Homo sapiens: one gene and its partner. The protein of the gene in region 1 purifies or fractionates together with the protein of each later gene. This does not show direct contact. Each region holds a gene or a part of one and is shown on either strand. Other genes may lie near its edges. The genes, in order: SCRT2 and HIBCH.

What was found.
Region 2: the proteins of SCRT2 (region 1) and HIBCH purify together in Homo sapiens (affinity purification with mass spectrometry; one large-scale study listed by BioGRID and IntAct). This does not show direct contact.

The regions. Positions count from the first base shown.
Region 1 is NC_000020.11:672,945-677,514, forward strand, and holds the start of SCRT2 (transcriptional repressor scratch 2), read right to left. Parts: upstream 2,859-4,570; 5' UTR 2,658-2,858; coding exon 2,525-2,657; intron 1-2,524. UniProt on the Homo sapiens protein: May be involved in transcriptional regulation.
Region 2 is NC_000002.12:190,316,990-190,321,318, forward strand, and holds the start of HIBCH (3-hydroxyisobutyryl-CoA hydrolase, mitochondrial isoform 1 precursor), read right to left. Parts: upstream 2,838-4,329; 5' UTR 2,762-2,837; coding exon 2,727-2,761; intron 1-2,726. UniProt on the Homo sapiens protein: Hydrolyzes 3-hydroxyisobutyryl-CoA (HIBYL-CoA), a saline catabolite. Has high activity toward isobutyryl-CoA. Could be an isobutyryl-CoA dehydrogenase that functions in valine catabolism. Also hydrolyzes 3-hydroxypropanoyl-CoA.

The DNA of each region.
Region 1 (4,570 bases):
GCAGACCCCCAGCACCCTCCACCCGCCCAGGGAATAAGGGATCCCTCACTGCCCAGTCTGGCCGCACCCCAGGGAGGGAAGAGGCCCCTGAAAACAAGACAAGGCAGACTTTGTATTTCCCAGTCATACCTAGGCTTGGTCTCTGGCACTGACCGTCCACTGCAGACACTGCCAAGGTGGCCAGGCCAGGGTGCCTGTCCTCACTATGGGGTAGCCTACAGAGACCAAAGCCAAGAAAAGTGCCCGATCCCAGAAATGCCGCTACCCTCAGCCAGGTGGCGTATGTTCAGTGGAGCCCTAAGGAAACCCTGACAGTGGCCTCCCAGCATCCTGTTAGACCCCTGTGCAGGCATCTCCAGTGCCTGACATTCCATAGTTGACCTTCACAGAAGCTGAGCTTGTCAAAGTTGGAAGGATGCTTAGTTTATGCCATCAAAACTCTTTCACTGCTGGGGAGGCTGAGGACCAGAGAAGGGAAGGCACTTGCCCAAGGTCACACAGCATGTGAGAGATCTAGAGCCCAGGCCTCCAAATTTCAGGCCAGGTTTCTGGCTATCAGCACAGCCTCAGGATTCCTGAGAGGTGAGGGAGTTGGTCTGGAGACCCATGGGGAAGGGGACAAAGACAGAGGTGGTTCTAGGGTGTTAAACCCGGTGGAACCTCTGCAGAAACACCCTGCTGGTGGCTCTGCACCCGCCCTGCTTCCCACTATTCACTCAGGGGCTCCTTTCAAAGCTTTTTTTTGGACTGAATTCAAGGCAAGGCATTCTCTTGCCTCCCTCCTGAGGAACAGCCTGCAGTTTTGGCTGTGCATGGGAAATTCTCTGGGCTTCTCTGGGTTTCCTCAGCTGGCCTGGGGACAGGACCAACGGGGCTTCAGGGGGTGGAATCCCAGAGCTTTGTGTCAGTGTCAGTCCCTTAAGAGATCCATATCCCAAGCTTGCAGATATTTCAGTTTCTACCAGCTTTGAGCGCACACTCTCCAGCTTTGGCATGGCCCCAGGTCCACCCTCTGTCCTGCCAGCCCTCAGCCCTGCTCAGCCATGTCCCTGGGCTTCTGACCTCCACCTCAAGAGGCCCTGTGATCAAGAAAAGAGGACAGTAGAATAAGGGACATGTGGGCAGAGGAGAAGGGGTTTCTGTTAAGGGTCTGGGGGATGCCAGTGGATGAGGGGCTGTAGCTGTATCCCTGATCACTCTGTAACTTCTTTGACCTTGATGAGGTCACAAAGCCCTTTGCCCAGCACTCTCTCTCTCTCTACCTGGTGTGGCAGAGTGATGGAATGTGGGTGAAGTGCTTGGAAATCCCAGAGGTGGAAGCCCCCATCCTCCCAGGCTCCTGTCTTTGCCATCTCAGTTCCCCCCTCATCCTCAGTCCTTTCTTTTCTCCTCTCTCAATCTCCCTCTTTCTCTCTCTCTCTTTCCCCACCCCCATCTCTCTCTCTCTCTCTCTCTCACACACACACACACACACACACACACACACACACACACACAACCCAAAGCTGCCACATGTGATGTCAGATCTCTCACTACCAAAGGGACACCTCCTCTTCAGACACCTGCCCTGGTGGGGGCCATCAGGGGAGAACCCCTTTGTGATCCCCTTGGTGGAGGATGGGATCCACAGAAGCAGTCTCCACTTTCCCCTGCCTTCCAGAGATCACCCCCTTCTGCACCTGAATGACTTCTCTTGTTCCTCAAACCCTTGTCCCTGCAGGAACTTGTTCTGAGAAGAGATGGAGTGTGTGTGTGTGTGTGTGTGTGTGTGTGTGTGTGTGTGTGTGTATGTGTAGTGAGGAGGGGGCTTACGAGGAGCAGCAGGGTTGGTTCTGGAGGGGGTTGAGAAGCTGGGGATGGGGAAGGAGTGCAATCCAGGGGACCAGGAGCCACTTTGGGGGAACCCCTCCCAGAAATCCTCTCTTTCTTGCAGTCCCCAGGACAGGCCCAGCCTTTGGCAGGCATGTGGCTGAGGGTAACAAAAGAGTTATTGAGAGAGGGGGTCTGAGAGCACTTGTGTGACATCGGCAGGGGAGCAGGTTTGAAGGGAGGGAGGGCGCCCCCAGCCACCCCCAGGGAACCAACCCTGTCTCTCCAGGGACTGAACATCCAGGGCTCTTTACCTTCCCCCTTCCCGGGCAGCCAGCTTCTCTTCCTCAACGGGGGAGAGGGAACCCTCAAAGTGCCTTGTGCCTCAGTGCCCAGCGCTGGCCTTTCACGAGCAGCCCCGTCTGTGTTCTCTTGCCACCCCCTCACTCTAGCCCTATTTGAGGGCCACAACTTTCAAAGTCCCGGCTGGCGCGTGGCTGCGGGATGGGCCGACCCCGCGACTTTCCCTTTGTACGACCTAGCCCCTGCCCCGCCCGCACGGCCCTTGGAAAGCCCGGGAGGAGCCCACGGCCAGAGAGATCTCCTCCCGGGGGTTTCCTGTCGCACGCGCCCCTCCTCGTGGCCCAAGCTGGGGAGGGCCCCAGCTCCCCTCGCCTCTTCTCCCAACCCCCCGCCCCCGCCGGGTCCCACTCACCGTTGTCCCCGGGAGGCCCCCGGGCGCCAGGCAGCACGTAGGCTGTCTCCAAGGGGTGGTAGGTGGGGGCCGGCACCCCGCTGCACTGGAAGCCGTCCCCTTTGATCTTCTTTACCAGGAAGGAGCGCGGCATGGCGCGGCCGGCGCGGGGCTCGGTGCGGGGAGGCGGCCGGCCGGGCGCGATCGGCTGTGTCCGCGCGGGTTTTCAGCACTGGACAGCTCCCAGCGGGCTGGAGCGCGGGAGGCCGCTCGGAGCCGGCACCGGTGGCGGCGGCCCCGGCTCGGGCTCGGGCTTGGCGGCGGCGGCGCGCAGACAGGGGATCGCGGGAGCTGCGCTCAGCACTCCGGCTGCCGGCTTTATATGGGACGCAGGCTGGAGATCAGGTGGTCCCCTAGCAATGGAACCGCTCGGCGCTCTAATCCATCAAATGTCCCCCAGGACAATCGCTCCGCACACGTTCCCCTGAACCGGCGGCGGTGGGGGCAGGCCCGGAGCAGGCAGGAGGGGAGAAAGTGAGGGCGAGAAAGGCGCAGAGACAGAGAGGGACGGAGAAAGGGGAGTGAGGGGGGCGGGGAGAAGAAGAGAGACTCGGAGAAAGACAGAGACATACAGGGAAAGAGAGACGCACACGCTGAGAGAGGTAGAAATAGAAGCAGAGAGACCAAGATAAGGACAAAAAGACACAAGAGAGAAACAGAGAGAGAAGAAAGACAGAGATGGAGAGAAGTAGCAACACACACACACCCACGGGAGGAAAAGAGAAATCCAGGCACACAAAAAGGAAACCCCCCCAGGGATGCAAAGAAAGGGAAAGAAAAGTGCAAAAGAGAGGGGGAAGCCGAGGGGAACGGAGGGAAAGCGGTCCCGAGCAGGCGGGGTTCAGGCACATGGGGCCGCAGGGAAGGGGATGCAGAGGAAAGAGTGCGCACTGGCCAGCGGCCACCCTCCCGCCTCCAGTCCTCTCCCTCTCCCCCAGTTCTGAAGTGGCCAGGGTGGACGCTCAGCTTTCACTAGAGTAAGTCTCCCCTCCCCCCTGCTCGGGCTCCCACTGGAGCCCCCTGTTGGGTTTGGGGTTCAACTTTCTTCTTCCAGAACTGGTGGGGGGAGCAAGTCCCCCACGCCGATGCCTGGCCTTGCTCGGTTGGTCCTGTTCCGGTGCCTAGCTCAGGCGGGCGCTGCAAGAGGAAGTGAAAATCGTCCAGTAATTAATTTTCCTGCTGCCGGGGGGTGGTGGTTTTGACACATCCGAGGCAGTGTCTTTCCCTGAAGCGGGGAGCAGACAATAGAGACACGTGGACTGGGAAGGGAGAGGGGGGAAGGGAGGGGGAGCGGGGCTCCTGCTGGAACTCTTTGCAGGTCAGCTCCTTTGTCTCTAAAAGGATCTGAGCAGACCCGCCACCCCCAGTCCGACCCAAACCTGGGGGAGCCCCCATATCTTGGCAGGACCAAGGAGCAGGAGAGCTCAGCCCCCTGCCCAGAGGGTGCTGGGCAAAGCCCCATGGTGGCGGACCTGCTTTAGCAAGTGTGGGATGGCCAGTGCACAAGAGTCCCAGAATCAGACTCTAGGAATTCCAGGCTCTCGCTGTCAATGGAATTCTGGTTATGAGATGCAAGGCTGGTGGAGTGGGGATGTCCTTTTGGGACTGGGTCATCCAATACCAGTTTGCAGGCTAAGACCTAGAGAGGGCTTGGAGGTGCTTGAGGTCATGCAGTGAGTCAGCAGCAATTGCCAGAGACCTCAGTGGCCTCTGGGCACCACTGAATCAGGGCCTATCATGGTCCTTGAGGTGTAGCCCAGAAGTCTCAGAATAAAACTGGGGCCCCTCGTGGTGGTTCAAGCCTGTAATCCCAGCATTTTGGGAGGCTGAGGCAGGAGGATCACTTGAGGTCAGGAGTTTGAGACCAGCCTGGGCAACATAGTGAGACCTTGTCTCTACAAATAGTTAAAAAAAAAAAAAAAATTAGCCAGGTGTGGTGGTGCACACATGTGGCCTTAGCTACTTGGGAGGATGTGGTGGGAGGATCGCTTGGGCCTGGGAGTTCGA
Region 2 (4,329 bases), on another chromosome or scaffold:
CACTGTAAACTTGAACTCTGTGGCTCAAGTGATCCTCCCACCTCAGCCTCCCAAGCTGGAAGGATAGGCGTATGCCACCATACCCAGCTAGTTTTTTTATTTCTTATTTTTTGTAGAAACGGGGTCTTGCTATGTTGCCCAGGATTGTCTTGAACTCCCATGTTGGCCTCTCAAAGTGCTAGGATTACAGGCATGAACCACCACACCCAGCGAAGAGCAACCTCTCTGATGAGGCTTCCTGACTCCCTCTCCCTATCTAAATCTGGCTCTCATAACTGTACTTGTCCCTTAAGACACTTACCAGAATTGGTAATCAAAAATTACTTTTGTCTAATTATGTGTTTCCTATCTGCTCTCCTTTCAGACTCCAAGGGCCCTACATAAGGAACAGTAGGAAAACCAAGTAGTCCAGAGTGGCTACAGGATAATAGAAATGCCTAGAACTGTGCTTCCCAGCAAGTAGAACAGAACAGTAGGTAATTGTTCATCCATGAATATACTGGGGCCAAATCTGTGAAATCCAGACTGGTAAAACTGTATTTAATTGCATAAGCAGAAGGGCACCTCTGTGAGATTCTGAGAAGAATGGCAGGCACTGAAGTAAAACCTTAGCGAGATTAACCTGGCAATCTTGTACAGAAACAATTCACACTGGGAAGAGGAAAAAGTGATTAACTTTGAGACTACTGTTGAAACCTGAATCCACAGGAAGAGGTTAAGGTTTGGGAGTGTGGGAGAACTTAGGTAAGTTTGAGAATCTAGAAGAATGATAGTGCCAAGAGAGACAAAGAGTAAGGGTTATACTTACGTGCAAATTTATTTTTCTTTTCCTTTTTTCCTTTTTTTTTTTTTGAGACAGAGTCTCACCCTGTCGCCCAGGCTGGAGTGCAGTGGCATGATCTCGGCTCACTGCAACCTCCCCCTCCCAGGTTCCAGCAATTATCCTGCCTCAGCCTCCCAAGCAGCTGGGATTACAGGGCCCTGCCACCACACCCAGCTAATTTTTTTGTATTTTTAGTAGAGACGGGGTTTCACTATGTTGGCCAGCCTGGTCTTGAACTCCTGACCTCAGATGATATGCCCGCCTCGGCCTCCCAAAGTGCTGGGATTACAGGTGTGAGCCCCCGCGCCTAGCCCTTAAGTGCAAATTTATATATGAGGTGCAACTGAGGCATTCAGAGGGTTGTGACCAGCATTAGAGCTCAGGGCAAGTCAGGTTAGACAAAAATTTGAGTTACCCTAAGACAGATGATTTGGGAACCAAAAAAAAAAAAAAGTCCAAGAGCTAAACTGGCACTGGGGTAAGGAGAGGCGGTGGAGAGTGGCATTAGAAAAGTAGGCCAGTACCGAAGAAGCCAAGGGAGGCCAGAGTTCAAGTGGGGCTGCCCAACACTGTCAACCATGGCCCAAGGCCTTTTTTCCTCTCAGAAACACTTTCCGTGGCACCCTATTCCCTTATACAGTTGTGGGTTAGGGTATTGTGGACTGGACCATCTTGGCCTCTGCTTTCTAGGATAATACCCACTTCAGGGCTGAGTCTGGAAAAGGCATCTCAGATCAAAGCCCCCAAAATGGTCCTGGCCTCACCTACAGAGTACTGCATCTTGGAACGTGGGGTGGAAGAAAGCCAAGCTGAATTGTGGAAATGACAGATCCTTTCCTAAGTCAGCTAACTTTAACAAACATGTCTTTCCAGTTTGTTTCTCTATTTGCTATTTGCTGACAACACTGAAAAAGCGGCAGTAACGATTACGTGTACTGATTTTCTTAGCATTTACTAAATCTCTCCATGAGCTGGTGCAAGGACAACTAATTTTAAGGTATTAAAAAAACAAACAGAAAAGCAACTCTTAAATGTATAACAAAAATTTACTGAGAATTAGGTCTGTGGATACAGTGTTAGACATCTAGACACTTTCCCCTGAAACTATTCTTCTTAAGTCAAGGAAACACCTCCATCCCTTTTCAGGAAACCCAGAAGGCAAACTCTAAGGCTTAAAGAATCCAGTAATTTAAGTCGTCCTTATTTTAAAGAAATAAGGACGGTTCTCCCTTCAAGTGGGCGCAGCTGCTACCTGGTATGACAGTACAGGGCCAGGCAGTGGGCTGTTTAAGGCGCATGCAGCCTAAAGATGATGGCTACCAGATTTCCTAGGCTGAGCTCAAAGCGCAGTGAGGGGTACTTTCAAAAAGTTAAACAATGTTTGCAAACATGCTCCCCCATGCCACGTTAAATGTCCCTCAACACTAGCCTGAAAGTTCCAAATGCCTATACTGACGCTGCAGCCATGCAAGAAAGCTGAATAAAATCACACCACGGGCAGAGAGAGGTGCAGCAACTGGCAAAGCACCTGTGTGTGCTGGCTGCACAAAACATGCCGCACAGTTCCGCTAAGCTAAATCTGTCCGTGTCCCCAGACTGCACCCAACTTTTAAGAAAGGAAAGAAACTGAGGCCAAAAGAATTAAAGTCGTGTGGGGACAAGCCTGAATTAAGAGCCAGAGTGGCAGAAAACCAGAGTGCTGCTGCAAAGAAGATGCTAGAGGGAGAAAGGAAAGACAGGGACGGGGGCTGGGGCTTGGGGAGGGCCAAGGTTGGGGTCTCACAGCGGCGCCTCTGAGCGCGACTCGAAACTTCGAGGCCAGCAGTCTCCACCCCCGGCCCTTTTCCCACTGTGGCGAGTGCCGCTGAAGAGCCTGCCCTTGGCCCCTCGCTCTCTCACTCACCTCGACATGAGCCTCCACATCTCGCGCTGCCCCATCGCCAAACACTCCGAAGCTAAAGCAGCAGAGCGAGAATCTCCCGGACCGTTCCAGCGCCTCGCGTGAGCCCCGCCCACCGCCGTCCTGCGCCGCCGGGCACAGATGACAAGTCCTCCAGGAAGCCAGAGCGACCGTTTCCGCTACGCGACGGGGAAGGGCGGGGCAAGAACGACGCCTGGAGGAAATAGTTGAGGGAGAGGAAGGGATCGGGGACCGGGCCAGGGAGAAGGCGGAGAGCGAGCTGAGGCGGAGCGGGAAGAGGGAGGATAGAACGGACTAGGGCGGATTCGCAGGAAAGGAGATTGCCCTCTAGAGGCTGTCTTAGCCCAAAGCGCAACCTGTTGTCTAGGCTTGGCCTGCCAATTTGACCAGCAGGGACTGATGTGAAAGACTTTTCTGGAATTTTAGTAATTTTTTATTAAAACGTAAACTTAGTATTCTTTGAGACTCAAGTAGAGGAATTACAGTTGATAAAGGACATCGATGTAGTTTATTCATTCCTAACCCAATACAGCCGAATTCCTTTAATATTAGGATTGAGACATTTTCATTTTTCTTGGGAAAAGTTACAGATCTCCCACTCTTCCTCAAAGACACACAAGAGTTGTCTGATTAAGACATAATAGATATGTCTTCCCAACTAAAGTAAAAGTTGCTGTTATCAGTGGAAGCATAATTACATTCAGAAAGTAGCTTACTCTTAAATGAAACCAACATTTAACTCAACTACTAGGATCCACTGTTAAATTGAGGAAAACGTTCCTCCGCTTCCAGATCCACCCAGATGTGTAGCAGAAGACATTTCATCGCCACTATTAAGTATTGACACATTTATCAGAAAGAAGAAATCCGGTGACAAATTTCAGAGAGGACACATGAAAGGAGTTATTCTTAGTACCTTGATATTTAAAGAGATACACTGTTGAGACTTTGATCAAAAATTACGTTGCTAACCTAGGTCAAATGTAATAACCAAATGCCCACTGAGAAGAGGACAGACAACAGACATCACAGAAGGAACTCCTTACCTGCAATTTGGTTTTTAACTGGCTACAGGACATCACCATCTGACATCACCATCATGCCTCATTCACTGCGCACAGAAATGAACCATTCATCTGACCTAGCATGGTTTACTGGAAAAAGCATGGGCTTTCCTGTTAGTCAGACTGAGATTCAAATCTTCCTTGCCGCCCTAGCTTCATGTGTGTGAAACCTGAGTCTCACAAGGCCTCATCGTTAGAAGGGCCCTGTGCTTGTTTTAATGCTGTGCTATTAATAATTTTTGAACAAGGAAACACAAATTTTCATTTTACACTAGGCCTGCAAATTATGTAATCAGTCCTACCCCTAGCACACTAATAGTTTAATGACCTTGAACAAATTATATAGCTTTTCAGAACCTCCATTTTCTCATCTGAAAATGGATGTGCTGATGATTAGAGGTGTTTGTGAAGATCCATTGAAATATAGAAATATGTGCATAAATTACTTAGGACTTCGTAGGTATCAAGACCTGTCAGTTATGCCACACCTTCCACCAAGCTGTCCTTCCTATTCCTAAATT